Regions from separate parts of the Homo sapiens genome. Here region 2 is linked to region 1. The links come from fine-mapping of genetic effects on gene expression. A gene starts in region 1. The other region holds a variant in brackets. All regions are shown on one strand. Distances are from middle to middle.

Region 1 (2,915 bases):
AGGGAATGACAGAAGCCTCTGAGAGCATGTTCCTGTCCTGAAAGTAGCTCAGAGTGACTCCGGTATAGGATGTGAGGGGCAGAGTTGAAAGTCCGAGACTAGAGTAGAAAGCCAGGGCCAGACAGCTCGTCAAGTGTCCTGAAACCTATTCCAAAGAGTCAGGACTTTATTGTTTGAGAAACGTGACACCACTGGAGGATTTTTAAATCAGTGTCATTTTTAGTGTCTGATTCAGTGTACTGCCTTCAGCCAGGAGAGTTGGCAGTATTTCTATTTTATAGATGGGACAACTGAGGCCCCAAATAATACATTTAAGAGATAGGTGGGGTTGATTTAATATTCTCAATCACCATGTTGTCAGGGCCTCCTAACTCTTACCCTCTCACCCTCCATCCTTCCTTCCTTCTGATTGTTATTCTTGTCAAAAGTAAAACATAAAACTATTTACCTGCCATCCTTATTTTTATCCAAGGAACACGTATGCACTCACACAGCTTCCAGAAACCAGTTCCCCTCGGTGGAAGCCAGTTGCTTTAGGGGTGGTGCGGCTTGTATGTGGATGGACACCATGTGTGCACTGAGCCCAAATTCTCTGTTCTTCTTGACTAGGAAGCTGGATTTGTACCAGGGACCTTTTATCTAAATAGGAGACTCTGGGCTCAGGAGAACAGAGCCGACTTGACAAAGTAGAAAAGAGCTCAGTATTGGTCTGCCCACGCTTTGGGCATGCGTGAGCACTCGCAGCAAAACACAGCTGGCACATCTAATTTTAGCCTCGCCCGCCTTGAAAAGGGACCCTTTAAGGAAATATATTTTATCTGAAACAATTTGTATTATAATGTAGCAGCTGATAGACATGACAGAATATTATCATTGGTGGGAAAAAACTCTGCCAAGCAATTATGATTTTTGTTCTTTTTTTTTTAGATGATATCAGTAAAGTGATTAAAGCATCAATGCAACAAAATAATCATAAAGAGAGAGACAATGGGAGAAACAGATTTTATCTGTAAAATATCTGACGAACCTAAGGGGTCACTTCCTTTGATTTTTTTTTTTTTTTTTTTTACAAAATGGATGTATTTTAAAAAAGTTATTATTTTTGATATGTTCAGTTGATCAGTCCAATCTGATGACATGTGGCATTAATAGTAGTCCTGGAGTAGACCCTAAAATTTCTTCAATACTTAACATCCACCAAGTTTTCCAGGTAGTAAAAGGTTAGTTTCTCAATCAGCTCTTGGATGCGTCTGGCTCTAGCGTGTTAACAGATTTTGAAAGCATCCGGGACTTACTTTTTTCCCCTTTAACCAGCAAGGTTAGTTCCCCTGCCTTTATTTCTTTTCCTTTCTCCTCCTTCCTTCTTTCGTCCTCTCTTCCCTCTCTTCTGTGTTTTGTTTAGCAGTGTGGCTTACCTTGGAACTTGGCAAAAAGAGGAACAAAAAGCAGCTCTTGTGTGGGGTAGATGGAGGAGGGATAAGAAATAATCCACCGCCCGCATTTGAGTTCTTCAGGTTCAGTTCCAGCGGCAGCAGCGTTGCTGCAAAAATCGCTTGCTATTCGAGATAGCCAGCAGAGGGAATCGGAACTTTGCTTGCAGCAGGGGTTGAAGCAGCCTTTTTTTTTTTTTTTCTTGGAGGAAATACTGCAGCCTTCTGGACTGCGTACGCTGCTCCCTGGAGAGGCTCTCTCGGTTCCACCCACCGGCTGGAAGGAGGGGAAGTGAATGAAAGGACAGGACAAGCCCCGAACACCATGTCACTCTGGGAGGGAGACAGCAGCAACTAAGCTGTACAAGGTTTTTTTTTTTTTTTTTTCTTCCTTTTTTTCTTTTTTTTTTTCTTTTTCCCCTTTCTTTTTCTTTCTTTCTTTCTTTTTCTTTCTTTCTTTCTCTTTCTCTCTCTCTTTTTTCTTTTTCTTTAAGGTGGGGAAAGAGACAACCAAGAGACAGGAAGCTGATCTGCAAGGATTCGGAGTTGTGCTAAAAGGACTTTGATTTTTTTCCCCCTTTACGAACGCTGGCAATTGACATCACTACAGACAGCCTGGTTAGAGAACAAACTGCCTCATCCCAAGTGGACCCCGGCAGCTGGGGGAAGCCAGGCAAGATCTGGGAAGGCTGTGTGTGGGTGTTTTTTCTACAGATCTCACTCCTCGCCCTTTTTTTTTTTCCTTTGGTGTGTGTTTTTTGTTTTGTTTTGTTTTTTAAAAAAATTCTTGCTGTGTTGGAACTAGCGAGTGGTGGAGTCTCTGAAGCCTCATCAGTCACCGGGACTGTCAGGAATAGTGGTTTAAGAGGAAGCTCGGCCTGGGGCACTATACCCTGTCATCCAGTTCCCTGCCTCGGAGATAAAGATTCCAGCTACATGGGCAAACGCCTGGATCAGCCACAAATGTACCCCCAGTACACTTACTACTATCCTCATTATCTCCAAACCAAGGTATGGCTTGACCCACGGTCTGGCGATCAGCGTGGTATCGTTCTGCACTTGGGATGGGAAACAGACAGGCGTGTGAATTATTAGTTAACCCCCACCCCCATCACTTCTTCCTGCTTCTTTGAAATTAGTGACATACCAATGGAGTTAATGAGGCAGAGGAAGACATAAGAAGAAAGCAGCAAACCCGGAATTGTAGCTTTCTCTTTAAGGAGAGATAATAGTTTCACTTGAGTTCAGTTTCTTTGTTGTTATTTGGCAGCATAAATGGTCCTGATATCAGGAACGTCTTTTGCAGATGGGCACGGTTTTTAGAAAGCAGATCACAACAGTGATTACCAGGCACAAGAATATAATTTCAGGGGCTTTTCTGGTGAGCTGTTCTTTGATTGTGGCTCTAAAAGGGTTTTTCCCACTGGATAGGACGTGCAACGGTGGGGGTAACTCAAACTTTTAATCGCAGGGTATAGAATGAAA
Region 2 (2,915 bases), 65 kb after region 1:
TACTATTTTTAGCTTCATAAGACTCTTGTGTCTATAAATGATATTCCCTTTTTTGAGGATAATGTCTTAAATGCAGTCCAAAATCAATTAGCTATTATGTGCAACCAGGCTACCCTTAGAAAGGTGACTATCCTTTTTTGTATATATTTACCAGTATTTGCCACCCAGACCACAAGGCAAGGGATTGAGGTAGTCACTGGTATTTTTCTGGGAGTAGCTTAAGCTTATAATTTTCATGTACATATTTCCCTTTCTCTCTTTCCAAAAAGGATTATTTAAATTTTTCAACATTTAAGCATAGAGGAAATAAATAAAATAGGTTATCTTGTCATTTTCTCCATAAGGAACTTCTTCAGAAAAGACAGTGTGTAGACAGTCCCAGTGGCTGTCCCCTTTAACTCAAGCCCAGGACCTACAGATTTCTCTGTAGCTCAACAAAATGTCTTTCCACAAAGGGCTGGAGGATTCTTAATTATCAGTTGTTGAATTTCAGTCATCCTGATAACACCATTTAGCCAACTGTGATGGCAGCGATATTTGTCTTGTTAAAGACCCTGAAGTTAAATTACTGCTGTACTATTTTCCTTCAAGCCTGACTTGTTAGTTATGGTGGAAGTGAGCTATTGACTGGGGTCCTCCCATTCATCTATACTTCCTTTATTATTTTAAATGATCTCTAGAGCTAAGGGGCAGCAATTTGCATTATTTATTCAATGAATTCTACCTGATAGTCTTGTCTATAATTTCCCTTGTGAAGAGAACAGAAAGACTAAGAATGAATAAATTGTCTCTTGAAAACTCATGGCTTTATCTGCTTCTGTCACAGAAATGCTATAGATTTCAGTTTTCTTGACTGAGAAATATTTAATAACAAGAAGCTCTACATTCTAGCAGTTTAAAAGGAGGAGGATTTTTTTTTCCCCCACTCTTTGTCTCTCACTGTTTCTTCCTCTCAGCTATACTTTACCTAAAACCTTAATTTTTTCCCCCATTGCTTTTATGGGGATTCCTCTGAAAGACATAAAATGCCTCTCTCCATGAGAAGCCCTGTCATAGGAGACAGCTCTTTCCATCTGTATATTTTACTTGCCTTGCATGTAATTTTCTCATCCAAATGGAAAGCTCACCATGCTCTAATGAAACTTACTAGAGACTCCCAGAAAATTCATGTAACCAGGTTTATGTGTGGGTCTGATGTTTTAAGGGACAGACTGACAATTCATGGCCAGAGGAGGCCATTAAGGAAACAGGTTTGATTGAAGTCCCGACACAGATGTTGACAGCATAATTAAAATGATTAATTGGAGTAAGAGAAGTGTTTCAAACTAATTAGAAAAATGGTTTGGTTATACCCCCAGACTGTACAAATGGCCAGAGGAGCCAATTTTTTTATATAGAGAAGGGAAAAGTGAAGATGTATGTTAAAACAATGTCATTCTTCTTTTATCAAGAGGATACTGCAAAGTTTAAAACTATGATTATTGTTATGTTGGTTTTCCTGTGAGTCTTTAGGTCTATTATCCCAGCCCCTTTTGCCAGGTGGCTGACTGGGCATAGGCGTGCAGCCACGTTCAAGAAACAAAGGGAATACTTGCATAGAACTGGAGTTGGCCCATATT[G/A]ACATAAGACAGTTCTCAATCACAATAACTATTTACTTGCATATTGCTTCTCCAGAGAGAATACAAGTACCCCAAATTACCATCAGATGGCTTAGCACATAGTAGGGCCTCAATATTTTGTGTGTTTGCTGAGGCAACCAAAGCCATATTTTTAAGTATGCCTAAATAATAGGACTGAGAAATTTTTCTTCCAGTTATGCTTTCATTTTCTTGATTATTTCTGTTTTATTGTGAATCCTAGTAAAGGCAATTCATTCTTTTTTTTTTTTTTTTTTTTTTTTTGAGATGGAGTCTTGCTTTGTCGCCCAGGCTGGAATGTAGTGGCGCGATCTCAGCTCACTGCAACCTCCGCCTCCCGGGTTCAAGTGATTCTCCTGCCTCAGCCTCTCGAGTAGCTGGGATTACAGGTGCCGACCACCATGCCCAGCTAATTTTTGTATTTTTAGTAGAGATGGGGTTTCAACAGGTTGACCGGACTGGTCTCGAACTCCTGACCTCAGGTGATCCACTCACCTTGGCCTGGGATTACAGGCGTGAGCCACCGCGCCTGGCCAGCAATTCATTCTTATATCTTCAGAAAACCTGAACTATCATGGACCAATCGGTTTTAGAGATTATTAATGAGCATTAGCAGGGGCATGTTTCAGAACTCTTTGCAGACACAATTTAGTTAAAACATTTCTTAGTTTCTATAAAAGCAAATGTATGCTATTGTGGTGTTGAAGCTCTTTGTACACAAAGTAAACATTACGTGAAAGAACTCCTTTGGCCTGCAAACATAACATTTAAATGGCTATTGACCATATGTTTCTAACTAAAAGCACTATGAAAAACAAGTTCTTGCCAGATTTCAGGTTTTTTTCTAGTTGTGCTCTGTGAAGCCTGGTGGTAGGTTTTCAGTTAATGCCTTTGGCTACATGAACAAGGAGTTTCACCAAGAATGTTGGGAATTCCTTTGGTGACCAAAAGGAAATATGAAGACTCTGGAGGCTGATGAGAGAGACAAATAATGGGGAAGTCATAAACATCATGCCAATTCCTGTCATTTATTTCATTTTCTTTTTAAAATAAGATCTGAAATTGTTTAAAAGAATTTTTGAAAAGCATCAAGTTAACTTTCTAGCACTTTTAAGTTTCATGTAAATCAGTATTCTTCAAGTGCCACATAAATATGTGTAGGTAAGTGTGCTATTTCTAGGTCTATAATATTTAAAGATATTTAATAAATAGGTTTCATTCGTTGCATGCAGGATGCTGACTAAAATTGATAGAGGAAAGGTCTAGGGGTTTGTTTAT

Which allele goes with the higher level. Alleles are on the strand shown, and positions count from the first base shown. SD is a standard deviation of normalised expression in the study named.
For the expression in iPS cells of the gene that starts at base 1,756 in region 1, allele A in region 2 goes with a higher level than allele G (moderate effect, 0.51 SD a copy in HipSci).

Evidence for each region.
Region 2: its variant is fine-mapped to the expression of RBMS3 in iPS cells (HipSci, PIP 0.95).

Annotation. Positions count from the first base shown.
Region 1 is chr3:29,279,316-29,282,230 of GRCh38, forward strand. It overlaps RBMS3 (RNA binding motif single stranded interacting protein 3), which reads left to right and starts at 1,756. Exons shown (of 15, transcript NM_001003793.3): 1 at 1,756-2,441. The coding sequence starts at 2,367. RBMS3-AS3 (RBMS3 antisense RNA 3) reads right to left here and starts at 1,624. Exons shown (of 3, transcript NR_109804.1): 1 at 1,416-1,624. RefSeq lists an enhancer at 611-660.
Region 2 is chr3:29,344,521-29,347,435 of GRCh38, forward strand. The region is part of intron 1 of RBMS3 (RNA binding motif single stranded interacting protein 3); the gene reads left to right. Among named protein-coding and RNA genes, the nearest start is that of RBMS3, 65 kb to the left of the region's middle. The variant G/A (reference allele first, on the strand shown) is at 1,620.